Linked DNA regions of Homo sapiens: all the other regions are linked to region 3. The links come from fine-mapping of genetic effects on gene expression. A gene starts in region 3. Each other region holds a variant in brackets. All regions are shown on one strand. Distances are from middle to middle.

The links.
Region 1: its variant is fine-mapped to the expression of AFF4 in whole blood (TOPMed, PIP above 0.99).
Region 2: its variant is fine-mapped to the expression of AFF4 in B cells (Schmiedel 2018, PIP 0.95).

The regions. Positions count from the first base shown.
Region 1 is chr5:132,806,937-132,818,405 of GRCh38, reverse strand. SOWAHA (sosondowah ankyrin repeat domain family member A) reads right to left here and starts at 5,104. Exons shown (of 1, transcript NM_175873.6): 1 at 1,620-5,104. The coding sequence starts at 4,784. The coding sequence ends at 3,135. RefSeq lists enhancers at 2,959-3,459, 3,460-3,960 and silencers at 4,000-4,069, 9,635-9,929. The variant C/G (reference allele first, on the strand shown) is at 6,142.
Region 2 is chr5:132,906,151-132,911,150 of GRCh38, reverse strand. All of the region lies in intron 5 of AFF4 (ALF transcription elongation factor 4), which reads left to right. Among named protein-coding and RNA genes, the nearest start is that of LEAP2, 35 kb to the right of the region's middle. The variant T/AAAT (reference allele first, on the strand shown) is at 2,377.
Region 3 is chr5:132,958,880-132,970,348 of GRCh38, reverse strand. AFF4 (ALF transcription elongation factor 4) reads left to right here and starts at 6,715. Exons shown (of 21, transcript NM_014423.4): 1 at 6,715-7,090. It overlaps AFF4-DT (AFF4 divergent transcript), which reads right to left and starts at 6,537. Exons shown (of 2, transcript NR_186175.1): 1 at 6,215-6,537; 2 at 5,659-6,108. RefSeq lists a silencer at 6,421-7,260 and an enhancer at 9,187-9,688.

The DNA.
Region 1 (11,469 bases), 150 kb after region 3:
GCTGAGGCAGGAGAATCGCTTGAAGCCGGGAGGCAGAGGTTGCAGTGAACTGAGATTGCACTACTGCACTCCAGCCTGGGTGACAGAGCGAGACTCCATCTCAAAAAAGAAAAAAAAAAAAAGAAAGAATGATCATGTAAAGCAGATCCACAAATCAGAGCTATTTGGTTTTGGGATGCAGCCATTTACCCCCTGGAACCAACTCGGCACCCCACATTGGTGTTGCAGTTCATAAAGAGCTCTATCCACTCATTCTACGTGCTCTTCCTTCCCCCACAGCCTGTGAAATAGGTACAGGAAGCCTTTTGTCCCGTAGACAGGGAAGATGGAGTTTGGGGAGCTGGGTGACTTGCCCAAAGACACTAAATGAGTAAAAAGGGCTGAGATGAGCCCACCCTGCTTCCTGCAATAGGATAGCAGACAGTGTCATGAAAAAGAGAACCAGGAGACTATTCCAGCTCTGCATTTACTAGCTGTGAGGCCTAGACAAGTAACTTATGACTTCTCTAGGCTTCAGTTTCCTCACTTTAAAATCAAGATACAAATAGTACATACCTTATAAACTTGCGATTAATACCTGCAAAGTGTTTCGAATTGTGCCTGGCACTTAATCAGCACAGGTTATACAGTATATGCATTACCCTGGATCTCCATTAGGTAAGGGAGACATGCTTAAGAATAACCTCCAACCTCCATTAAAGGATATGTAAAACTTTACTTAAAAGCTTGCTATGGATACGACTCATACCCATCTACATCAACAATTCTCCCTCATTAAAAGGCGTGATTTCGTCCCTGTGACAATTCTTGTCAGCTAAATTGCCTTCACAATTATTTTCTGTTAGTGTTGAAAATACCCTTCTAACGGTGTGCCTCCTGCTAGGTGATATATGATTCTTAAAAACTTTCCCTATGCGTATGAAACTATAATTTCTTATCGGCTTACCTTATAGTTGCAGAAAGCTTTGGCCTGCAAGGAAAAGCAGTGTTTTCTAACACCTGAGCTTTAGGTATATTGATCCTAAACTCTTGCTAAATGTTTTACTTCACTTGGAAGGCTTGCAGCACACTCTTCTGAAACACATAGATTCTTCTGGCAGTTCAAATGACCCTCCTCTGATTTAAGTGTGCAATAAACATTAGTTATTGTTATTACTACTTTGCTGGTTTAAACGTTGTCTTTATCAAGGCAGGTCATACCTGTGTCTGTGACCTTTGTCTGAGGCCCTGTCTGAGTCAGGTGTCTCTTTTACCATGGAAAATCTCTAGTATTTTATTCTGTTTTCTAGACTGTCAGCTACTCCAATTGCTATAATTGTGTCTCCTACAATTTTTCAGCAGAGGCAGAAGATTTAATTTGCATTTTAAAATAATTTATGCAGAGTTCCAGGCAAGGAAGGTGGGAAGGTCACATCAGGGCCCACATTTATCTACAGTTCTCCATTACGATATCCATGTGTGGTTGACTCCTTTACTTTGCAGAGCAATCCAACTTCTTTCAATAACAGAATGCTTGAAAGAGGCAGAAGAATGAAGGAAATTAGATAAAAAGAAAAGAAAAATACAATAGCAAAAACTGTACAATTTTTAAGGGAAGTACATCACCACTCAAGCAGAAACAAAATGGAGGACTGTTTATTTCATTGCTCAATCAAAACATTCCATGAAAGACTGCCTTAAGTAATTTCAAAGGCTTCACTGATACATATGGGGGTGGGGAGGGAAGCTCCACTACCCCATGCCACAAAACTATTTGATATAACTAATGACATGCAAACACAATTTGCAAAAGCAGAGCATTATCACAATATGACATTTAAAAAATTGGTTGAGTAAACAGATTTCATATCTTTAAAACATAAAATAATTACACTGTATTGAGCCTGGGAAATCTTGGCAATATCTACAAACTTTCTCATTTACAGATAGGAACAAAGGCCCAGAGAAGTTAAGCCACTCATCCAAGCTCACTGAGCAGAGATTCTGCATTTGCTATTTTGGAATAAGTTGTCTACTTTCAAATGGTTTTTTAAAATGGGTATTACATACTTTTTGTTTGTACAGAACAGTCATATAAAATAGTTGCTCCTTAATTGTATCCATTACTATTTAATCGCTCATTTTTCTGTAATACTATTACTTTTTTAATAGTCACCTATTTCACTGAAAGGCTCCACTGGATTTGAAAACCAGATTCAGAAACATGGCACAAAGGTGCAATTCACAAACCACAATTTTTTTAAAAAATTAAGTAGTCATGCCAAATCAAAATAGCCACCCACAAGTGCCAAACACGTTTCTATTTCATGATGGAGACAACCACAAATTAAAAGTATCTGTCAAAATGTCTCTTTTCTCTAAGTCACCTTTACTTTCAAGATGTACTTGTTTGCAAATATTTAGCATTCACAGTACAACTGAAATTAGTTACATTCATAATGGTCACAATCGTTATTCTGTGTTCAAGACTCTCCAGAATCTTGATTGCCTAAAACGAGGTAGATAAACTTTTAAGTTTGTTGGTTGGGATTAATTTCCTTTAGATCTTGATCATCTATTTTTTAAATAGAATTCCAAAGTATTTAGCAAAAAAAAAATTGAAAATGTCTAAGCACTTTGCCTAAAAGTGGAAAAATATAATTCCAAAAGGTTATTACGAAAGTTGCATTACCTCATTTCAATTTAAAAACAGAATAAAAGCATCAAATTACAAAACCACCACATATCTTAAAGCTGACAACCTAACATCTTTCAACATTTAAAGAGACCCTTGCTCTAGCTCTGTCTTGGGATTGTGTAGCTGCAGAGGCATCAGGTGAAGGCTTTCAGGGGCCAGACCAGCTGCTGCCCCTTAACCTTTGACCCTGGATTTCAAGTTCCCTCTAGAGTTCAGGCCTGTCTCCTGGAGTTCTTTATAGGAAGCTCTCACTGATTTCTCAAATCCCATCTCTGGAGATGGGTCATGCTTCAGAAAGAAGCTGGAGGTGCAGGCCCATCTGGGTAAAACAGGCTGCCCTGGACAAAGCTGGAAACAGAATGAGGCTCCAGGCGTTGATTGGGCTGCAGTCTTGGGCGGGTTTGGACTGCGACGAGCAGGCCACGATAGATCAACCAGGTGGTAGCCCCAGGGACCTTCAGGTTGTTGGAGGCAAACTGGGCACTAGACCAGCTAAAGGCCCCGGAGTAGGTCGACGAGAGATTTCTGAGAAGGCTGGCAGACCACCGCGGATCTTTGTCTTTTTACGTGGAGCCATGGGCGAGGCGCTCAAGAACTTGCTGAAGGAGCTCGACTTCTTCAAGCCTCGGGCCAGGTCCTGGAGCATGAGGTCGTCAGCCAGGACGCCCAGAAATGCACTGGTGGTGGAACTGAGGATGGTGGCGGCCACCTGTACGGGGCGCCTGGCAGCAAGACTGCCACTTCCACCACCGGTCGCATCTGGCTCCGTGGTGCCTCGCAGGCCTGGATCGCCAAGAAGGCGGCGCAGCGCGTACGAGGAGCCGGGCCGCAGGTACTGGTAGGCGCGACGCCCGCTGTGATCACGCACGTGCACCTGGGCACCCAGACGCACCACCAGCAGCACGGCAGCGTCCTCGTGGCCGTGCAGTGCAGCCAGGTGCAGCGGCGTGTAGCCGCCGTGGGAGCGTGCGTTCACGTCGACTGGTGCGCCACTGCGCCGCGCGACCTCCACCAGCTGCAGCGCCATCTCGCCGTCGCCGCTCTTGGCGGCCCAATGCAGGGCCGTGAAGCCAGACATGAAGTCGCGCTTGGCCGCCAAGCCGCGGTCGCGCAGCAGCAGCCCGTGCAGCTGGTGGGTCCAGCGGCCCCCGGCAGTCCGCACGAGCCACTCGTGCTCGGACGGCTCCAGGGGCACCGCGGACGGCGGCGGCGCGGCGGGCAACTCCTCGGCGTCAGGGCTCAGCAGACGCGGGCCGGCGCGCGACAGGCGCCTCAGGTGCGGGGAGCGGCCCGGGCCCAGGCCGAGGCCCAGACCGGACTCTTCCACCGAGAGCCGCCTCAGCAGCAGAGGGGAGCTCCGCGGGCTCGGCTCCTCCGACAGCTGCCGGCGCAGGCCGGGCTCCTCCGCCCGGAGGCGGAGCGTGGCGGGGGCCGGGACGCAGCGCACCGGCAGCATACAGGGCTTCTGCTGCGGCGGCCCTTTCGCTGCCCCGGGCCCGGGCTCCGCGTCTGGCGGATCAGAGCAGGGCGATGCCGCCTCAGAAGGGGCCCTAGGCGGTGGGGCCGCGTCTGCGGAGGGTCTCTCGGTGGCCTGGGCTAGCTCAAGGGCTGGAAGCGGTGGGTCGGCGGACCGCTCCCCGGGCGGCTGAGCGGGCTCGGAGGCCGGCCCCCCCGGGGTGTCCTGTGGCTCTGTTGGCAGACCCAGGTCCCCTGGCGGCTCCACTGGCCGCGGCACCCGGACCAAGGGCGGAGCTCCCGGGGCAGAGGCGCTCCGCGGCAAGACCGTCGAAGTGGGTTTCGACGGCTGGGCCGCTGCCCCCGGGGGGCCGAAGGGTGCGGGCTCGGGCTCCGGGGGCCGGGGCTTCTTCCTCAGCACCACGAACTTGACGCCGTCGAGCTCCTTCACCACCGCCACGTTGTTGACGAACTGCTTGAAGCGGTCCCTGCGGGCGGCGCGGCCCCGCGGGTCGCCGGCATCGAGCAGCGGCTTGAAGCGGCTCAGCAGCTCGGAGTTGCGCACCTTCCCGCCGTGCTCCTGCAGGAAGCCCAGCACCGCCGCCTGGCTCACCCCGGCAGCCGCAGCGGCGGCGGCGGCGGCCAGCGCCATGGTGGGGCCCTGGGTTCCTGGCTCCCGGGGCGGGTGGGCGCCGCGTCGCCGCGGGACGCGCGGGAGCGGGGTTCCGGGAGGCGCGGCCGCGCTCACCTGGTGCCTTCCCCGCGGCCAGCCGGGCGTGTCCCCGAAGCTGGACCTCGGTCGCGCCAGTGCCGCTGGGCCGGGGCGTCTCGGGGCGAAGGGCGCCGGGGGCCGCGGGGAGCGCCCACCCCCAGCGCCCCGCCGGGCCCCGGCCTTCGGGGTAGGTTTCTGCCTTTGTATTCTGTCCAATGGGCGCCTGCTTCCATCCCCCGCGCCGCGCTCGCCTTACAGGTGACAGCTGCCCCCGCGATGCAGAGGGAACCGGAGCAGAAATTCCCGCCGCCCCCCGCCCGCCCCAGAATTAAAGGCGCAGCGCTCCAGCTCTGGTCTCGGTTGCTAGGTGGGTGTGTTCCCTAGGGACGCCGCGGTCCGCCAAGGAGGAATGGATTTTTATTCCTTTAATAAACATTTAACCACTGCAAAACACCAAGCGATGATTTCAGAACAATCTTTTTTTTTTAAAGGTCGTCAATACCACTCCAGTTTTTTTTTTTTTTTACTGTGTTTCATGCAGGAAAACGGCTTCATGAGATTTACAGCAAAACCAATTCACTCTGCGCGGCAATGCACGTTACTCTAGGTTTAGAGAGACGTTTTCAAAAGCAATTTTCTCATGGTAAGAGAATACATTTTCACGTAGAATTTGGGGTATAAAACCACAGGAAACATAAACATAACAGGAAAACATAGAGGAAAACATAAAGAAGGAAAAAAAATCACTTGAAATCACCATTAACATTTTGAAATATCCTCTCCCTGTCTCCCATGTGTGTATGTATGTTTATGCTTTAAAGTAAGAAAGCAATGCGGAGTCATGCCATGGTTTTAAACCTTCGTTTGTTCCACAGATAGGTATTGAGCACGTAGTTTGTGCCAGGACTTTTTTTTTTTTTTTTTTGGCTAAGATGCGTCAGTTAGCAAGACAGATTTAAAAACCCGTGACCTAGTGGGGCTCATGTGTTGGAGGAGAACAGAAGCATATGGTGAATCCGAAAACTATATGATATACTAAATACATGCTATGAAAAAAGCACAGCGGGGTATAACGGATGAGGGTCAGGTTGCAATTTTGATCTGGGCAGTCAGGATAGTACTCGTTGTGAAAGTGACATTTAAACAAGGACTTGAAGGAGATCAGGGAGTTATGTAGACGGGGAAGAGGTTTCTAGTTGAGGGAACTGCCTGGCAGAGGTAGAATCAGTTCCTTAATTTAAAATGCAGGCCGGGCGCGATGGCTCACGCCTCTAATCCCAGCACTTTGGGAGGCTGA[C/G]TTGGGCGGATGATCTGAGGTCAGGAGTTCGAGACCAGCCTGGCCATCATGGTGAAATCCATCTCTACTTAAAAATACAAAAATTAGCTGGGTGTGATGGCACGCACCTGTAATCCCAGCTACTCCGGAGGCTGAGGCAGGTGAATCGCTTGAACCCGGGAGGTGGAGGTTGCAGTGAGCTGAGATGGCGCCACTGCACTCCAGCCTGGATGACAAGAGCAAGCCCTGTCTCATAAATAAATAAATAATTGCAGTACTACAAATATATCTAACCAGAAGCAGCATATTGTAGTAGCTGAGAAAACAAGACTCTGGAGTCAACATTCTACACTTGAGTTCTGGCTCTACCTTGGGCAAATGCCTTGACTTCTCTGTGCCTCAGCTTTCTTGTCTGTAAAGGAATGAGGAAAATAGTACTTACCTGCTCAGATGGTTGAGAGAATTAAGTGAGAAAATAAACACAAAAGACTTAGCATAATGCTTGGCTTACAGTAATCATTTGAATTATTATTAGTAGTATAGTCACTACTATTAGTATTACTCAAAAGGAAAACAGAAGACTAAAATGTAAAGGGTCCCCTTTCCCCAATCCAATCCCCAGGGGCAATTTCTGAGTTCAGCCCTGTCCCCAAGATGCAAACAATTTAAACATTTCCCCCTCACTTTATATTGTGAGCATTCCTCCCAATGACAATAGCTAGTCTAGTCTTCAAAAACATACAACTTTTAATGATAGCATCAAATAAATGTAGTATTATACTTTGTTTTCTTGTTCTTCATTGTTTATATTGTTTCTAGTTTTTAATTCTTATAAATGATGCTGTTGATATATAAGACTTTGTGCACCTTTCTGAGTAATTCCTTAGGATAGGCTCCTAGGAGTAGAATTCGCAGGGCACGCACCATCACACGCAACAGCATCACACCCAGCTAATTTTATTTTTATATTGCCCAAGCTTGTCTCAAACCCTTGGCCTCAAGCGAGCCTTCCACCTCAGCCTCCAAAGATTACACGTGTGAGCCACTGCATCTAGCCTTACCCCAGCGCCCCCCCTTTTTCTTTTGAGATGGAGTTTTGCTTTTGTTGCCCAAGCTGGAGTGCAATGGCGCAATCTTGGCTCACTGCAAGCTCCGCCTCCCGGGTTCAAGTAATTCTCTTGCCTCAGCCTCCCAAGTAGCTGGGATTACAGGCATGTGCCACCATGCCTGGCTAATTTTTTATTTTTAGTAGAGATGGAGTTTCACCATGTTGGCCAGGCTGGTGTCGAACTCCTGACCTCAGGTGATCCACTCACCTCAGCCTCCCAAAGTGCTGGGATTGCAGGCGTGAGCCACTGCGCCTGCCCTACCTTACCCATTCTTTAGACTCACCTCAAGGCCCACCCCTGTAAAGCCTTCTGCAAACTGCCTCAGGTGTATCGTGCTCTGCATTCCTCAATAATTTATTTCAACAAACATCTATTGGATATCTTTGGGTGCAAGGCTGTAAGCCAGATACTCTGGGTAGAAGATACAATCTGCCTTTGAAGAGCTTACTGCTTAGTGGAGAAGAGAAAAACATTAAGTACAATTAATTATGTGACATAGCCAAATGAAATGAATGCTCCAGGTACTTACCAGAGCACGTGGGGGATGGGGGGTGAAGGGGTGGGGAAGGATAGGGAAGAGGGAGGACTGGGACATCTCCAAGAGGCAGGCTATGAGAACAGGATAGGTGAAAGCTTGAAAGTGGGACTGTGGGCCGGGTGTGGTGGCTCACACCTGTAATCCCAGTACTTTGGGAGGCGGAGGTGGGCAGATCATGAGGTCAGGAGATTGAGACCATCCTGGCTAACATGGTGAAACCCTGTCTCTACTAAAAATACAAAAAAATTAGCCGGGCATGGTGGCGGGCACCTGTAGCCCCAGCTACTTGGGAGGCTGAGGCAGGAGAATGGTGTGAACCCGGGAGGCAGAACTTGCAGTGAGTCAAGATAGTGCCACTGCACTCCAGCCTGGGCAACAAAAAAAGAAAGTGGGACTATGAAGGCTGAATTCAGGGTAAAGAGTGTCCAGTGTGTTTGAAGTTCAGGGTGTGTGCCAGGGATATGGAAAAATATAATGTTGGAAAAGTCATCTGGGGTGATGGGTGAAGGGCCTTAAATGGTAGTTTGGACTTTGCCCTGTTTGCAGTAGAATGTCATTGAGAGCTTGCTTTCTTCTTTTTAAAAAGTGGCTTTATTTTCTGATTATAGAATTAATGTTTTTTCCAATTCTCAATAGTTTCTAAAATATAAAAAGAATATGTCACATGTTAGAGAGCCACTTGATATTTTTTAGTTTATGCTGTGAGGAGTTTTTCTCTGTACATCCATAGATATATACACAACCATCTACACCATTTGGTACACATGGGATTAGACCGCGTGTTGCTAAGAACCCATGTTACCTTAGTCAAGACTGGTGTGGCGAATGGGCGGAAGAGGGGACCCTGGGGAGGTAGTGGCAGGGTCCAGTGGAAGACGGTAGGGCTTATCAAGCTCGGACAGTGGATGGGTGCCAAAGATACTTCAGAAACAGAACTTGCATTATATTGTCTTGTTTTCACTTTTAAAGTTATATTCCCTTTGTTTTAATTTTCATTTCAATAGCTACTTTTTATATTTTATTTTCCTACCTTTTTCTGGGCCAATTGTTGTGTTCCTTGAAAAGTCATTTCCATGATCTCATAGGTAGTGAAGCTTCAACTTGGACTTTTGTTACCATCTCTTGTCTCCAAGAAGAGAGATGAGGGAGAGCACTCTCTGTTAAAGATCATTATTGATTTATGTGGTTTGAACTAATTTTGACTATGATTGTAACCCCCCAATGGATTAATTTACCTTGCCCACTGCCTAGACAGAGCCGATTTATCAAGACAGGGGAATTGCAATGGAGAAAGAGTAATTCACACAGAGCTGGCTGTGCAAGAAGACCAGAGTTTTATTATTACTCAAATCAGTCTCCCTGAGAATTTAGGGACTGGAGTTTTTAAGGATAATTTGGTGGGTAGGGGGGCCAGTGAATTGGGGGTTCTGATCGGTCAGGTCAGAGATGAAATCACAGGGAGTTGAAGCTGTCCTCTTGCATTGAGTCAGCTCCTGGGTGGGGGCTACAAGACCAGATGAGCCAGTTTACGAGCCTGGGTGGTGCCAGCTGATGCATCAAGTACAGGGTCTGCAAAATATCTCAAGAACTGATCTTAGGCTTCACAATAGTGACGTTATCCCCAGGGGCAATTTGGGGAGGTTTAGAATCTTGCAGCCTCCAGCTGCCTGACTTCTAAACCATAATCTAATCTTTTGGCTAATTTGTTAATTCTACAAAGGCAGTCTAGTTCATTTTGGGAAAGGGCTGTTACCATCTTTGTTTCAAACTATAAACTAAGTTTCTCCCAAAGTTAATTTGGCCTATGCTCAGGAATGAACAAGGACAACTTGGAGGTTAGAAGCAAGATGGAGTTAGTAAGATCAGATCTCTTTCACTGTCTCAGTTATAATTTTGCAATGGTGGTTTCATGATCGCTAAGAGTAGACAAGGATTAAATACTGATTGAACAGGAATTGCTAGTACAAGCCGTTTATTGACAGTGCTTAACAGGCTTCAGGCTCTGAGCTACATAAGGAAACTTGGCCAAGGTCACAGTTAACAATTGGCTGAGCTCAAACTGGAACCCCAGGCTACCTGCCTATGCTCATTTACCATGCAAAGTTAGGTCACTGATGATTTAAAATTGATGTTCTGAATGTTTAATAAATAAAGTAGGGAAAAACTCCTCACAAATACCTTACTTAAACTTTTATTTATGCTTGTGCTTCTGAACATACTCTGCTTTAATATTTTAAGTGATAAGTTTATAGTTTGAGCAAACATTACAGTGAGGATGCTAATGACATCCAGTTCCCCAGGCTGCTTTTCAGTTTTGATGCCCTGTTGCCAGTGAGGCCAGAGAATCAATTCTTCCAGTGACCCAGCAGTTTGCCCGCAACATTAGGAAAATCAAATATAAAATGTATATTTATAGCAAGGATAAAATTCCATGATGTGTCTTGAACATGGAGAATGAAATAGGAAGGCTATTTGTTCTTATCTCAGTATCTTAAATATGAAGCAGATCAGGGTAGAGGCCCTCTGTAATTTTTAAAGCTACAATATTTAAATATAAAATAAAATAATTTCATAATCTTATGCTATGTTACATTACATTTATATTATTATTTTTGAGACAAAGTCTCGCTCTTGTCCCCTAGGCTGGAGTGCGATGGCACGATCTTGGCTCACTGCAACCTCTGCTTCCTGGGTTCAAGTGATTCTCCTGCTTCAGCCTCCTGAGTAGCTGGGATTACAGATGCCTGCCAATGGTATTTTTGTGTTTTTAGTAGAGACAGGGTTTCACCATGTTGTTCAGGCTGGTCTCAAACTCCTGACCTCAGGTGATCTGCCCACCTCGGCCTCCCAAAGTGCTGGGATTATAGGCGTGAGCCATCACGCCTGGTCTGTATTCTGTTCTGTTCTATTCCTTATTCCAATCCACACTACCCTCTGAACCCCATGCCTAGGCCCCACCAAGAGCTGTAGCGGATGCTTAATGTTTGTAAATGTCTTCTCCCCTACCATGGCAGTGCAAATCAGCTCCTTCCATTGCGTTTATCCAACGCAGCCTGCCACCTCTGCCCCCTGGTGTCTCACCAATACATCTCATCTGTAAAGAAGAGTTCCTCCGGTCCCAGGAGGCAGGAGCTCCAGGGACTTGAGGGGGATGGGCTGCCCAGCAGTGGCTGTAAAGGGACTTTGCCCAGATATCAAGCTTTTGCGGTCAACTTCCGGAACAAATCGTGCTTTGTTCTTGCTTCCAGCCCAGGGGAAGCAAAGGGGACCTCTCTCATGCCTGCAGCTTGTTAAGCCCACTTCTCTCTAAGGTCAAAAGAACTTTATTTCTAAATCTGAGTGAAAGTGTCAGCTCACGTGTTTCTGCTGTAGACTGAGTTTTTGACTCTGCAGTTCATTTTTCAGGCTGCTGCTTCTCTGATTGCTCAGACTATTGCTTGGTTGCTAAGTAGGGAGCCACAGACCTGGTCCACGGAGACTTGGAAAGCTGTGTCCTGGCTTCATGAATCTCCAGCAGTTGGTGCCCTTTGCTACCCATCTTTAATCATCCCTTTCAGTCCCTTGCCTTCTCAGGTATGAGGTGTTTTTTGTTTGTGGTTTTTTTGAGACGGAGTCTCGCTCTGTTGCCAGGCCGGAGTGCAGTGGCACAGTCTCGGCTCACTGCAACTTCTGCCTCCCGGGTTCAAGGGATTCTCCTGCCTC
Region 2 (5,000 bases), 56 kb after region 3:
CTGATGGCTTAGTAGAAAGGGAAAAACAAATGATCCATGGGAAAGAGAAGAGGTAACCTTAGGAAATCTTCACAAGAGTGATTGAGATTCAGTGCCCAAGTAGAGGACAGTAGCTTTAGAATAGAACACCACTACTTCATTGGCACCAGAGGGAAGCAGAGAATATGGGTATAGTTGGGGATAGCTTGGGAGATTTTCCAGTGATAGTTTGGAGAATATTAAAGATTTTGATTGCCTTTGCACTTACTCACCATGTTTGGAACAACCTCCAGCAGTGTTCTTGACACTGGAGATAGAACGCTGTACAATTTAAATGTTCTTGCTCTAAGATGGGTATTTAAAGAACATAGGAAAACGCTGTGCCAATGCTTAGAATAGTTCTGGCACAAAGTAGCTGTTCAATGAATGTTTGTTAACTGAATTTGGATGTATATACTCAAGTAACAGTGTTTAGATTTTGGTGTTTGTGAGACACCTCAGCTACTGACTGACTGTTGCTAAGGTGGGTTGCTTCTTACCGATAGCTTATCTCATTCTCCAAATTTAAGTGGGTACAACTTCATGTGTAATATACCTAAAAGCTCTGTGTGATACTTTAATAGGTACTTACTCTCCATGTGCACTAACTATATGTACCAAGTCCAATGAGAGGACAGAGAAGGGAGAAAGTTGTTATACCTAGGGAATTTGGGGTTAGCATCCTACAGGAGGTGACACCAATTAGAGTTTGAAGGAGAAGTATAGGAGTGCTAGCAAGATGTGGGTTGATAAGGAACACATCAGAAAGCACTTCACACCATTGACGAGTCTGAAAGAGCAGTTCACAGGCGGCAAATGGTGCTAAGTTTAGGATCATATTGGGGAGCTGGTTTAGTATATTCATCTCTCTCCTTGAATTGGTCCCATTTAAAAACAAAAACAATTCAATCCCTCTGTTCCATGTGATTCATCAGTCACTCCTTTTGTTTAGAATAAAACTTACTAAAGATTGATTCATATTTGCTATTTTTCCCTGGTATTTTGCTGGGTGTTATAAGGAAGTGTGAAACAAGAAATGTGTTTTGCCTGTACCAAACATTTGGTTGTAGAAATCAATAATACAAAAGAAAGCAATAGGAATTATTTATTAGTGTTTAATTGGATGTGTAGTTGTGTGCATCACACTTAGACGTAAGTTGTCTTCTCTTTGTATTCTGTTCTTTACCTAGAACCTCTTTACCTAGGTGCTTCACAAATCTTATCTTCTCCTCCCCATCTCCTTCCCTCTTTACCTTCCCCTTCCACCTGTTGATACAGTAGCTGCTTTAACAGGAATTACAAAAAGGAACCCAGGACAAGGCAAGAGTAATGGCAAAAGTGCAGTTTATGCACAGTTGCAGTGTTGGAACAATGATGTTGAAGCCAGAAATGTCTGGAACTGTGAATATCTTCAACTCAGTTATAGAATCATGCTCTGTACAATATATTCTGTAATGAAATGAGGAGTGAATCTGAATATTTTTTACACTAACATAGAAATTGTTTCATGATATCAGTTATCCCACTTAAAAATGAGTTAGACACCTCTCTCTTTTTAATCTCTCTATCTCACACACAGATACACACACACACACGCACACCACCACGAAATATGCTATATGTATCTTTTCATAATGTATTTTTAAAAAATAATTAAACCCCCTTCTCTCTTCAGAGTAAAGATGATGTTGGCCTATTGTGGTGGCTCATGCCTGTAATCCCAGCACCTGGGGAGGCTGAGGCGGGTGGATCACCTGAGATCAGGAGTTCAAGACCAGCCTGGCCACCATGGCGGCCCCATCTCTACTAAAAATACAGAAATTAGCTGGGCGTGGTGGCATGCGCCTATAATCCCAGCTACTTGGGAGGCTGAGCTGGAGAGTCATTTGAGCCCAAGAGATGGAGGTTGCAGTGAGCAGAGATCATGCCATTGCACTCCAGCCTGAGCAACAAGTATGAAACATCCTACAGGAGTGTGAAACTCCATCTCAAAAAAAAAAAAAAAAAAAGATGATGTTTTAACAATGAATGAAGTAACCGCTTCCCTAAAAGATATGCTTGAGCGGCTGGGTGCGGTGCCTCATGCTTATAATCCCAGCACTTTGAGAGGCCAAGGTGGGTGGATCACGAGGTCAGGAGTTCGAGACCAGCGTGGCCAACACAGTGAAACCCTGTCTCTACTAAAAATATAAAAATTAACTGGGCGTGGTGGCAGGTGCCTGTAATCCCAGCTACTTGGAAGGCTGAGGCAGGAGAATCGCTTGAACCTGGGAGCTGGAGGTGGCAGAGAGCCGAAATCACACCACTGCACTCCAGTCTGGGTGACAGAGCTAGATTCCGTCTCAAAAAAAAAAAATA[T/AAAT]ATATATATATATATATGTATATATATAGTGTATAGATTATATATGAGTGTGTGTGTATATACATATACATACATTCAAGCTAGGAAAATAACAATAATATTGTCATTGTTTATGTATTTTTAGTTTTTTGTTACCAAAAAACCACAGTTCTAATATGAATACTGTAAAGAGCTGAAAAAAAATTTCTAATCAGTGGTTTGAACCTATTTGCTAAAAATAATAAAATGCATCCTTCTAATTTATTTTTCTAAATGATTTACAACAAGGAACATGGAAATCTAATTCAACTTCAATAGAATTCTTTACATAATTAATGTATAGGACTGAAATTTTGTTACTGTGATTTAATAAGCATGGTATTTCTTCCATGAGTATAACTATATCTTTGTGGCATCCAGTGAAACCAGATATCAAAAATAAGTCCATCTTAGCGTCATACCTTTGAAGCATTATATTTTTGTGTGTAAGAAAGGTTTTGTTGTCATTCATAAATATATTTAAAAATTACTCTAAAAATGGTATTTAATTTTTGTTATGCTTTTGAAATTGCAGTATTTTAATCTTATACATAAGTAGTAATGCATATTCTATACATATTTTGGAGATACAAATGGAAAAATTTCTTAGTAATGGAGTATATGATTAAAAAAAAAAAAGCTGGAAGACAAACTTGTTTAAGCTGTAGTTATCTCCTACTGGTACTACTCCAGTAACCTCATTTTGTATCCTTAACTCCATTCTAGCTTTCTTAAAACTGTTCTCCACTTAGTAGGCGAGATGATCCTCACAATGTGCAGATGTAGTTGTGTAACTCTCCTACTTAATAAGCTGCACACACACAGGTCTTTAATATGGTCTATAAGTCTGTAAACTGTGTGATCTAGCATTTTAGGTCTTCAGTCTCATATCTCACCACTCTTCCACCTTTACTTTTTCCTCTCTGTGGGCTGCCTTTAAGTTCCTTGTACAAGCCATGCTCTTCCCTTTAAGCTGGACTTTACACATGTTTTCTCTCTCCCTATGGCACTTAGCCTATCTCTTCCTTTCCCAGTTTATTTCCTATATATCCTTCAAATTTCAATCTGAATGGCAGTTCCTCAGGGAAGCCTTTGCTCATCTTCCTGGCTAGATCATACACACACACACACATATGCACACATGCATACAAGCACACAGGTACACATGCATGCACAATTACAAACTCAATATAATTATGTGTATTTGCCCTTCATTGTGTTTATTACAGTTGCCATTTTACTTTGATTTGCGTGAGTACTTGCAAAGGTAGTAATTATTGACATTCAAATAGGTGTTAAGCTCCATGGGGGCAGGGCCCTTGTCAGTTTTTGCTTATCATTGTTTTCTCAGTACTTTGATACATGAGTAAGTGTGTTGCCAGAGAGTTTGGGTTTCATCCTTAGGAAAAAACAAAGAGTCATTGGGAAGTTCTATGAAAAATAGGAGAGCAGTGATGACGCATACTAAGACTTGGGCTGTAGAAGGGTAAACTTCTACAGGCTGTAGAAGGGAGGCTATAGCTGAGTAAAGGAGATAAACTAGAGCTAGGAAGATCCATTAGAAGGCCATTGTAGGTAAACAAGATGAAGACCTGAAGTCTTTCCGGTTCAGATGGTCTCGCCTTTGGTGGATGTTTAAGAGACAGAATCCAGTAGTATTTGTGGACCTGCTGACTATTGTCAGATATAAGACAAATAAATCAGATTATTTGGAATATGGGGCTATTAACTTTTAGGCCATTTACCAAGTAAATGAATATAAGACAATAAACAATTTGAGGGGGTAAAGGAATCTTCATTTTATTTTATTTTTATTATTTGTACAGATAGGATCTTGGTATGTTGCCCAGTCTGGTCTTGAACTCCTGGCCTCAAGCTATCCTCATTGCTTAGCCTCCCAAAGTATTGGGATTACCTGCATAAGCCACCACACCCATCCTGGAATCTTCATTTTAAACAAAAGTCACAAAAGTGACCTCTTGCCCACTGCTCTATATACAGTTTTTTAACAGCAGTACTGAGATGTGATTCACTTACCATGTAATTCACCTACTTCAAGTGTAGAGTTCAGTAGTTTTGAGTTTATTTATAAATCATCAACTCAAAAAGAAACTGTACCCTTTAGCTGTTATCCCTCTTTCCCTCTACCTTCCTAGCCTTAAGCAACCACTAATCTACTCTATCTCTATAGATCTCTCTGTTCTAAACATTTTATATAAATAGTATAATGTAGTATGTGGTCTTTTGTGACTATATTCTTTCACTTAACATTATGTTTTTAAGATTCATCTAAGTTGTAGCATGTAACAGTACTTCATTCCTTTTTATGGCCAAATAATATTCCAGTGTATAAGTATATATCACATTTTGTTTATACATTCATCAGCTGATGGACATTTGAGTTGTTTCCACTTTTTGGCTGTTATGAATAATATTGCTATAAACACTTATGTAGAAGTGTTTGTGTGGACATATGTTTACATTTTGTTTGGTTGTGTACCTAAGAGTGGAATGGCTGGGTCATGTGGTAACTCTGTGTTTACTTATTTGAGGAACTGCCAGAATGTTTCCAAAGCAGCTGTACCATTTCGCATTCTTACCAGGGT
Region 3 (11,469 bases):
AGGCATGAGCCACCGCGCCCGGCCCTAATATGCTATTTTATATGGCATAGGGGAATTGAGGTGGCAGATGAAATTAAGGTTGTTTATTTAGTTGACCTTAAAACAAGTAGATGAGATTCTGAATGATCTGAGTTGGCCCAAAATAATAAGAAGAAATATATATATATATGGTTTTTTTTTTTTTTTTTGAGATGGAGTCTCACTCTGTTGCCCAGGCTGGAATGCAGTGATGTGATCTTGGCTCACTGCAAGCTCCGCCTCCCAGGTTGACACCATTCTCCTGCCTCACCCTCCCGAGTAGCTGGGACTACAGGCACCTGCCACCACGCCTGGCTAATTTTTTTTTTTTTTTTGAGACAGAGTCTCGCTCAGTCACCCAAGCTGGAGTGCAGTGGCTCCATCTCCGCTCACCGCAAGCTCCGCTTCCTGGGTTCACGCCATTCTCCTGCCGAAGCCTCCCGAGTAGCTGGGACTATAGGCATGTGCTACCACGCCCGGCTAATTTTTTGCATTTTTAGTAGAGACAGGGTTTCACTGTGTTCGCCAGGATGGTCTCGATCTCCTGACCTCGTGATCCACCCGCCTCGGCCTTCCAAAGTGCTGAGATTACAGGTGTGAGCCACTGCGCCCAGCCAAATATATATTTTTATATATATAAAATAAATAATGGAGATGGAATAGAAAGTCAAAGTGATGTGATTTTAAAAGAACACAACCAGCCACTGCTTTCTTTGAAGACAGAGGAAAGGGTCACAAGCCAATGAATGAGGGCAGTCTCTAGAAGCTGGAAAAGGGAAGGACTCTCCCTTAGAGCTTGTAGAAAGCAACAGTCTTGCCAATACATTGTCTTAATCAAGTGAGACTGGTGTCAGACTTCTATTGACACAATTGTAAGATAACACATTTGTGGTGTTTGAAGCCCCTAAATTTGTGGTAATTCATTACTGCAGCAGTAGAAAACTAATACACTATCCCAGACTCTTTAAAACCCTTTTCTGGCCGGGTGCGGTGGTTCACGCCTATAATCCCAGCACTTTGGGAGGCTGAGGTAGGTGGATTACCCGAGGTCAGGAGTTTGAGACCAGTCTGGCCAACATGGCGAAACCCCGTCTCTACTAAAAATACAAAAATTAGCTGGGCGTGGTGGTGGGCGCCTGTAATCCCAGCTACTCAGGATGCTGAGGCCAGAGAATCACTTGAACCTGGGAGGCGGAGGTTGCAGTGAGCCGAGAGATCTCGCCACTGCACTCCAGCCTGGGTGACAAGAGCAGAACTCTGTCTCAAAAAAAACCTTTCCTTACTATGTCCACAAATCCCAATGTATCATGATTCTTACCCAGTTGTAATCAAGCCCCTTGAATTGAAAAACTCTCTTAAATCAGATCCCCAAACCTTATAAATATTCCAACTTTGCTTTCCCCCTTAAAGATGTTACTGAGACTGTGTTAAGGTAGTGATCTTTTTTATTGAAGTGAACAATAACTCAGTTTTGCTTTTTTTTTTCTTGAGACAGAGTCTCATTCTGTCACCCAGGCTGGAGTGCAATGGTGCAGTCTCGGCTCACTGCAACTTCCACCTCCCGGGTTCAAGCAATTCTCCTGCCTCAGCCTCCCAAGTAGCTGGGATTACAGGCGTCCGCCACCACGCCTGGCTAATTTTTTTGTATTTTTAGTAGAGACAGGGTTTCGCCAATGGGTTGTCTTGGTGGTATTTTGGGGGAGCTAGTATCTGACAATTGTCTTATCCATGTGCTTAGAACAATACCTGCTATATAGTAGATGTTTAATAAATATTTGATAAATAATGAATAAATTATCTGAGTTTCTAAAATAATATGGAATAATGTTTACGTAGCTGTAGTTGTGACTTGGTAGTTCCTATATCTAGATGTGATTTTCAGAAAATATTGGTGGAGATCATTTAAGGCCCAAATGAAACCTTGTACATGGATATTTATAGTAGCTTTATTCATAATTTTTATTTTATTTTATTTTTGGACTTCTACAATGACTTCTAATTGTTTTTTGTTAATGGAAACAACCCAAATGTTCTTCAACTGATTAATGGCTAAACAAGCTATGTTATATCCACACAATGGAATACTATTCAGTGATTAAAAAAAAAAAGAAAGTACTGATACATGAAAACAACAATGGATAAATTTCACAAGCATTATACCAAGTGAAAGAAGCCAGACTTGAAAGGCTATATACTGCATGATTCCATTTGTTTGATATTCTGGAAAAGGTAATGGTATAAGGACAAAAAGTAGATCTATGTTTTCCAGGAACTGGGGTTGAAATGAAGGGTTCATTACGAAGGGGCAAGAGGGAATATTTTGTGGTGATTGAAATGTTCTATATCTTGACTGTGGTGGTAGTTACACAACTGTATGCATTTGTCAGAACTCATAAAACTGTACATTATATACTTTTTTTTTTTTTTTGAGACGGATTCTCACTCTGTTGCCCAGGCTGGAGTGCAGTGGGAAGATCTCGGCTCACCACAACCTCCACTTACCAGGTTCAAGTGATTCTCCTGCCTCAGCCTCCTGAGTAGCTGGGATCACAGGTGTGCGCCACCATGCCTGGCTAATTTTTGTATTTTTAGTAGAGAATGGGTTTCACCATGTTGTCCAGGCTGGTCTGAAACTCCTGACCTCAAGTGATCTGCCCACCTCTGCCTCCCAAAGTGCTGGGATTACAGGGATGAGCCACCACGCCCAGCCAAGGATGAATTTTATGATATGTAAATTTTACCTTCAAAAACCTAACTTAAAAACAGTACTCAGTTACTAAGTATTGCTACTCTAACAATATACATTAAATCTTTATTTTTTTTTGAGACAGAGTCTTGCTCTGTTGCCCAGGCTGGACTGTAAATGGCACAATCTTGGCTCACTGCAACGTCTGCCTCCCGGGTTCAAGCAGTTCTCCTGTCTCAGCCTCCCAAATAGCTGGGATTATAGATGCACACCACTGTGCCCAGCTAATTTTTGTATTTTAGTAGACACAGAATTTCGCAATGTTGGCCAGGCTGGTCTCGAACTCCTGACCTCAGATGATTCACCTGCTGTGGCCTCCCAAAGTGCTGAGATTACAGGCATGAGCCACCGTGCCTGGCCTAAATCCTTTGTTAAAATCTTGCATGCTAGTAAAACAATCATATTTTGCTTTGAGATTTTTGTTTCTTTTTTTTTTTTTTTTTTGAGACAGAGTCTCCCTCTGTCGCCCAGGCTGGAGTGCAGTGGCACGATCTTGGCTCACTGCAACCTCTGAAGCCCGAATTCAAGCAATTCTCCTACCTCAGCCTCCTGAGTAGCTGGGATTACAGGCGCCTGCCACTGCCCCCAGCTAATTTTTGTATTTTTAGTAGAGACAGGGTTTCACCATCTTGGCCAGGCTGGTTTTGAACTCCTGACCTTGTGATCCACGTACCTCAGCCTCCCAAAGTGCTGGGATTACAGGCATGAACCACCGTGCCCGGCCTTTGTTTCTCTTTTAGTTTTATGGTACGTCATTTTCTGCAATTTCTCCATTCTGCACAGTAGTCTTACACTGTTCTAGAACATGAAGTTAGAGACAGAACATTCACTTTGTTAAAACAGATGTAACTTCTTAAACAAAATGATACAATATTAAAATATTAAAAACTTAGAAATAATTTTAGGAACTTTTTCTTTTATTTGCTGAAACAGAGGAAACTTTTTTTTTGAGATGGAGTTTTGCTCTTGCTGCCCACGGTGGAGTGCAACAGCAAGGTTTTGGCTCACCACAACCTCGGCCTCCTGGATTCAAGTGATTCTCCTGCCTCAGCCTCCTGAGTAGCTGGGATTATAGGCACTGGCCACCACGCCCAGCTAATTTTAGTATTTTTAGTAGAGACTGGGTTTCCCCATGTTGGTCAGGCTGGTCTGGAACTCCCGACCTCAGGTGATCTGCCTGCCTTGGCCTCCCAAAGTGCTGGGATTACAAGCATGAGCCACCACACCTGGCCGGAAACTTCTTATTTGCAGAATAATGCCAAATAAAAGGCTATACTGGCCATTCCTCCCCTTTTTGGTTTTTAAATAAGGTTTCATTTTGTATTGAAAAAGTATCACTATCCTTTATGGAACAAAAGCATATTATTATTTGCGTTAGCCAAATAACATTTACTTCAGAATAAGCAAGGAAACTTAAAGTTTGTTACATATTTTCAATTTGCACCTTAATACTCATCTTTAATCAAAATTATTATGGTGTGGCCGGGAGTGGTGGCTCACGCCTGTAATCCCAGCACTTTGGTAGCCCGAGGCGGGTGGATCACGAGGTCAGAAGATCGAGACCATTCTGGCTAACACGGTGAAACCCCATCTCTACTAAAAATACAAAAAAATTAGCCGGGCGTAGTGGCGGGCACTTGTAGTCCCAGCTACTGGGGAGGCTGAGGCAGGAGAATGGCGTGAACCTGGGAGGCAGAGCTTGCAGTGAGCCGAGATGGCGCCACTGCACTCCAGCCTGGGCGACAGAGCGAGACTCTGTCTCAAAAAAAAAAAATTATTACGGTGTAAAGTGACAAATATTCTTTTCTTTTGCCACTCTCCATCCCCTCAACCCTCCAACCTATACAGCCTTGTAAATCTTCTTAAGCAGAATTTGAAAGCAAGTAAATGAAATAGGCACAATTTCTGTGTAGGATAATTTGGTAATATCTATCAAAATTAAAAATCCTTTTGATCTAAAGATTCCAGGCTAAGGATTTATCATACAGGTATAATTTGCTCATTATATGGAGTTGTTTTTCGTTTTTAATTATTTTAACTTTTTTGAGACAGGGTCTTGCTCTGTCACTGAGACTGGAGTGCAGTGGTGCGATTAGGGCTCATTGCAGCCTTCATCTCCTGGGTACAAACGATTCTCCCACCTCAGCCTCTCTAGTAGTTAGGACCACAAGCCTGTGCCACCACAAACGGCTAATTTTTTATTTTTTGTAGAGATGGGGTCTCACTATGTTGCCCTGTCTTGTATGAGGTTATTCATTGCAGCTTAGCATGTAATAGTAATGGCTTGGCAACAAGCGGAATATCCACCTGTAGGGGATTGGTTAAATAAATTAGGATGTTTGCATAAGTGGAATATTATTCTGCCTCTAGGAAGAAAAAGGTAGTTCATTATATACTGATATGGCAGGATGTCCAAGACATTTTTTTCTTTTTTCTTTTTTTGAGACAGGGTCTCACTCTCATCCAGGCTGGATGGCAAGCTCCCGGCTCACTGCAGCACCGACCTCCTAGGCTCAAGTGATCCTCCCACCTCAGTCTCCAGAGTAGGTGGGACTATACGCATGCACCACCACGCCCGGCTAATTTTTGTATTTTTCATAGGGATGGGGTTTTGCCATGTTGCCGGGGTTGGTCTCAAACTCCTGGTCTCAAGCGATCAGCCCCCCTCGGCCTCCTAAAGTGTTGGGATCATAGGCCTGAGCCACTGTGCCCAGCCTATCCAAGATATTTGAAGTGAGAAAAAAAGGACTGAACAGCGTATATAGTGTGTTACCTTTTGTGTAAAAAGAAGTATCCCTATATTTTAATGTATTACTTACAAATATGTAGGGAAAGATACATTATTAAATGCTAAGTGATTGCCTTCCAGGACTGAAACAGCTAACAGACAGAGATGGGAGAATCAATTATTTTTTATTCTGTCATGTTTTGAGTTTTCTATTAAGACATTTCCTAATTTATATAGCTCTATAGAGAAAATGCATATAAAGAGTGAAGCTTAAAAGAAATAGTAGATGTTTAGAGGTGAAAGAAGTGTTCAGAATGATATGCTGAAGAAAAACATTAGTGGGCCGGGTGCGGTGGCTCACGCCTGTAATCCCAACACTTTGGGAGGCCCAGGCGGGTGGATTGGTTGAGGTCAGGAGTTCGAGACCAGCCTGGCCAACATGGTGAAACCGTGTCTCTATTAAAAATACAAAAATTAGCCGTAGGTGGTGGCTCCCCCCTTTAATCCCAGCTACTCCGGAGGCTGAGGTACTAGAATCGCTTGAACTCGGGAGGCGGAGGTTGCAGTGAGCCGAGATCCCGCCATTGTACTCCAGCCTGGGCGACAACAGCGAGATCTATCTCAATAAATAAATGAAAAGGAAAACATTAGTGGCAGAAGATGTTTAAATGACGAAGAAAGAGGGACGGTTTGGCTTCTTAGGGTAAGTTTACTGGAAATACCGAACAGCCTCCTGCGTCCTTTGCCTTTTTGCTGGACCTCTTGAGGACTCGAGGCTTCGACACCTGGAAGCAAGTCTAGGAAGCTCCGGGTTGGGCCGGATCCCCACCAGAGGCGAGGGGCGGAAGGCCTGGGTTTGTCACCTGAGCCCCAGAACCGGCATATCCGGTTCGGCCCGGCCCCGCCCTTCGGAACCTCACTAGCGGGCTACGCGCAGGAGGGCGTGAGCTCCCGGATGTGCAGGCCCTGTACTGCCGTGGCAGCCCTGCCGGACGCGGCCGCAGTGCCCAGAGGCTCAGGCCTATACCGCTCGGGCGGGTCCTTTGCCTGGCCCGGGTCATCAGACCCCACAGCCGGGAACGTCACCACCCCGGGCGTCGCCTCCCGGCCCAGCCGGCCCACAGACCCCCGCCCCCTACTCCCCCAGCGGGGAGGGGCGCAGAGGCATCACGTGACGCCCCGCACCCGCCCGGTCTTGGTCACATGGTGGCACGGCCGCTGCGTCAGTCACAGCCCTGGCTGCAGGAGTCCAGCTGCCGTCGCCGCCGCCAGCGGACGGGGCGGGGATCCTGGTGCCAGGTCTTCGTTAACCCGCCCCCGCCGCCTCAGTCAGCTGTCCCAGCCCGGGCCCGACCGTCATGGAGCGGTGCGGGGCCTACGCCTGTTCCGTGTGAGGCGCATCGCTGCCGCCGCCGCCGACGCCGCCTTCGTTTGTCGAGGCCTCCGGAACCCCCGCCGCCTCCCGGAGCCCCTCGCCCTTGGCAGCCTGTCACCGCCCCCTGGGCGGGCTCGAATGCGCGTCCGGTGAAGGTGCAGGCCCGGCGCCGCCACTGCCGCAGCCAGGAGATGGTTCGGGCCTAGCGGAGCCGGGACTGGAGGTAAGAAGGGCCGACAGACTGACCCAGGGCCGGGCCGGGCCGCGGGGGTTGTGGCCGGGGCCGGGTGGGGGTGGGGGCCCGCAAGTTCTGCGGGGAGCCTCGGGGAGACCCTCCGGGCTGGGGCTGCTCAATCAGGCGTCACCCCTCCTCTCATCTGCGCGTCCCACCCCACCACCTTCCCGCAAAGATAAGAAAATAAAAAAAGCTAACCCAATCCTAACAAAAATTCCCAGAAATCCATCCGTTTAGTGTTTCTCCTTTCCTCTTTCTTTCCTCAGACGTTCCATCGGCTGATTTGTTACTTTTTCATATCCTCCTCAATTTCAAATTATGTCTAATTAAAGAGAAAATAGGCCCAGATTCTGGCTAACATTACCCAGCTAGTTCTCGCTTTCCTTCTCGCGATCCTGCGCACCTCTCCCACACCCCCACCCCCGCAAAAAAAAAAAAAAAAGAAGGAAAAATTTCCGCCTTCGACTTGCGAAGGGGATTGACTAAAAATGGGAACGTGGGGGTATAATACTCGAATACCCTCCCCTACAACTTCTGAATCGGTCTGTTACCTAGTTATCCCAGTAGCTTGTGCGTGGATATTGATGTTTAGGCCTTTCCTCCAGCTGCCTGTGCTTGGGGTTAATCTCGTAATTGACGTCAGTGCTTTGTTCCTTCTACTTTGCTGTTCCTTCCACTCTTTGAGGATGGATCATGGAGTACAGGAGTTTTGGGAGTAACCTTATTGCCTTTTCGTTTACAAACAGTATTATTTTCAGGAAGTGGAAGTACGAATCTGAAATGTTTGTATATGGAGTTCAAGGCGAAGAGTTCGATTTAGGGTTCTCGTAGTTTTGTCAGTTGTAATTCAGAATTATGCGGTTTCTTCCCTGCTGGCCACATGGAAATTTTATACTAAGGCCAGTCACTTTTCCATTGACCAGTGTTTTTCTTGATGGAATCTAAGCTATAGGTGTCTGTGAATAGACTGTAAATGTAACATAAAATGTGTGCTGTTTTTCGGGCTCAGATATGAAAAGCGCAAAGCTTCGTTTCTGTATTGATTCTGCACTTCATAAAGTGCTTTTTAAAACTTAACTGGTCTTTAACTTATCAAAATTGAAATATTTATGAGAACTTTCTTAATTTGGGATTTGATAAAGAGCCTTTGTGGTCTGTGAGTCTGCCTAGAATCATCTTTGGTCATACGTGCATAAAGAAGTGTTGGCAAGTGGCCACTTGGTTTTCAACAAAGCTGGCTTCTTTAAATTTCTCAGATTCGTTTTCCTTATTATCACTGCATCTTTCAGCTCCTAAATATAAGAAAAATTCCCAGTAAGTTATTTTAAGTTATCTTTCAGAGTTAACTTACTAAAAACCTGGAAGCAGTCAAATTTTTCTTTTTTTATTACCAGCAGTTTCATTCAATTTGCGGTGGTTTGCAGGCTGGTACTTTGATTTTTGTTAACTCTCTAGAAACAGTAGGCAAATTTTACTTTAAATAAAATTTTGCTTCAAGTGGGGACAAGATGGGGTGTCTGAAAAAAGAGCCCAGCTGTGTTAATTGGAACATGATCTACAGTTTGGGAGTGTAAGGTGAAGCTGTGTAATTAAGAATTCTTAAAGATTGAATATTTTTGTTCTGAGTCACTTTCTACTTGTCAGATTCTCACATTCAGGTTGATACATTCTCTTCTGTGTACTCTTGAGTTATTGTACCCTTTTTGTAGCAATATATTCTGCAGCCGGGCCTGGTGGTTCACGCCTGTAATCCTAGCACTTTAGCACTTTGAGAGGCCGAGGTGGGCGGATCACCTGAGGTCAGGAGTTCTAGACCATCCTGGCCAACATAATGAAACCCCGTCTCTACTAAAAATACAAGAATTAGCCAGGTGTGGTGGTGCACACCTGTAGTTCTAGCTACTTGAGAGGCTGAGGCATGAGAACCAAATTAGCCAGACATGGTGGTACATGCCTGTAGTCCCAGCTACTCCAGAGGCTGAGGCACGAGAATCGCTTGAGAATCGCTTGAACTGGGAGGCGAAGGTTGCAGTAAGCCGAGATCACACCACTGGAATGCAGTGGCTCCATCTCTGCTCACTGCAACCTCTGCCTCCTGGGTTCAAGCGATTCTCCTGCCTCAGCCTCCTGAGTAGTTGGGATTGCAGGTACACACTACCATTCCCAGTTAATGTTTTTTGTATTTTTAGTAGAGACGGGGTTTCAGCAGGTTGGTCAGACTGGTCTCGAACTCCTGACCTCGTGATCCACACGCCTCGGCCTCCCCAAAGTGTTGGGATTACAGGCATGAGCACTGCGCCCGGCCAACCTAGGCGATGTCTCAAACAAGCAGAAGCCTACTATATGTTTTGCACTGTAATTTTCTTTTTTTCCCTGTCTCTTGCAGATATTGAGGGATGCATAATAATTTTCTTACAGATCTGTTACAGGGTCTTTGAGGAAGTACTATATTTATTCCTCTTTTTATCTTCCTCAGTATTTTACACAATTACTAGATTGAATTTGAATGTGATAATATTTTGAACTTGAAATTGTTGTTCTATCAACTTATCTAAGATTTCACAAAAAGGTAATGTAAAGAAAGCTGTATGAGCAAAGGATCAGTATTTGAAAGGGAAAAACCTGTCAGTTTCAGAAGATGAGACAGAAGATGAAGCTTTCTAAAAGTTATATATTTTGCCTTTTTTGAGAAGGTAAGGTAAATGCCGTAGTTTTATGTGTACCTGAGAGGAACAAATAAAACAGGTATTTCTTCCTTTGTGGCCATCCACTGGTTTAGAATGGAGTTCAAAATCTATGAGGACTTTTCTTTGTGGTATTTTTAATAAAATCAAAGAGGTATTCTTAAGTATTGAGAGCACACCTGGACAATGACCCAGAAGTACAGCATGTACTATAAAAAATTGATGACTTAGATTTTTTTTTACTTTAGCTTTATTCTACAGATATCTCACTATGAAGACTTTTCTATATGATATAAAGGTTCCCAGCTCTCCTGCATCCTTATTATGTTTTACCCATTCCCTTATTCATTTCCTCTGATAAGTTGGAACAATTCTATTTGATTTCTGGGAGGGTGTTAGCTAGTCTCAGTTATTGTGAAAGAAGGTGTAGTGACTAAAGACTGCCTAAAGCTAACCTGACCTGTTACCTTGCTGCTTTTTCCTTTGGTTTAAGAAAAGCGCTCCTACTGGCCAGGCGCAGTGGCTTATGCCTGTAATCCCAGCACTTTGGGAGGCTGAGGCTGGCGGATCACGAGGTCAGGAGATCGAGACCATCCTGGCTAACACGTCTCTACTAAAAGAATACAAAAAATTAGCTGGGTGTGGTGGCAGGCGCCTGTAGTCCCAGCTACTTGGGAGGCTGAGGCAGCAGAATGGCGTGAACCCAGGAGGCGGAGCTTGCAGTGAGTCGAGATCGCACCACTGCACTCCAGCCTGGGCAACAGAGCGAGACTCCGTCTCAAAAAAAAAAAAAAAAAAAAAAAAAGAAAAGCACTCCTACTTGTTGTTAACTCCCTATACATACCCTTCTTGGTTATTTGAAGTGATACTCTAGTACACGGAAGAGGGCAGTAATATATGTTCCAGTTACTGAGTTTTGGCACATCATCTGCATTCCTGTTTGTCTTGATGTTCATTTTCGCTGGTATCATATCTTGAAAGTTTTAACGATACTGGGGCACAGAAAATATTAGAACCTCCAAATTCAATTCCAGAGTATTCCAAAACATTTTAATACTAGAACTACCTATTCTATTTTTGAAGAAAAAAAATCTTAGCTACCTGCTTTATCAGCTATTCTTTATTTAAAAAAATCTGTAACCTTGCCGGGCCCGGTGGCTCATGCCTGTAATCCCAGCACTTTGGGAGGCCAAGGTGGGCGGATCACGAGGTCGAGAGATCAAGACAATCCTGGACAATATGGTGAAACCCCGTCTTTACTAAAAATACAAAAATTAGCTGGGCATGGTGGCGCCTGTAGTCCCAGCTACTTGGGAGGCTGAGGCAGGAGAATCGCTTGAACCTGGGAGGCGGAGGTTGCAGTGAGCTGAGATCGCACCACTGCACTCCAGCCTGGCAACACAGCAAGACTCTATCTCAAAAAAAAAAAAAAAAATCTGTAACCTGAGGAATGTTCTGACAGAAGGCATTTTATGTAACTTTTTCTCTCTTGGAGTTCTTAATGAACTGTGTTGGTGGCTTTTAGGCAAGGAAACGTAGCTTATTAGTGGATACTGTTTTAAACTAATTACTTCAATAATCATTTCCTAGGACAGGTAAAAGAACTTCATGTATTCTTTTCCCAAGGTTGTTGGGTAGGAGGAATCAGGGACTGACATGAATAGACTGCACTGGAAAGCCAGT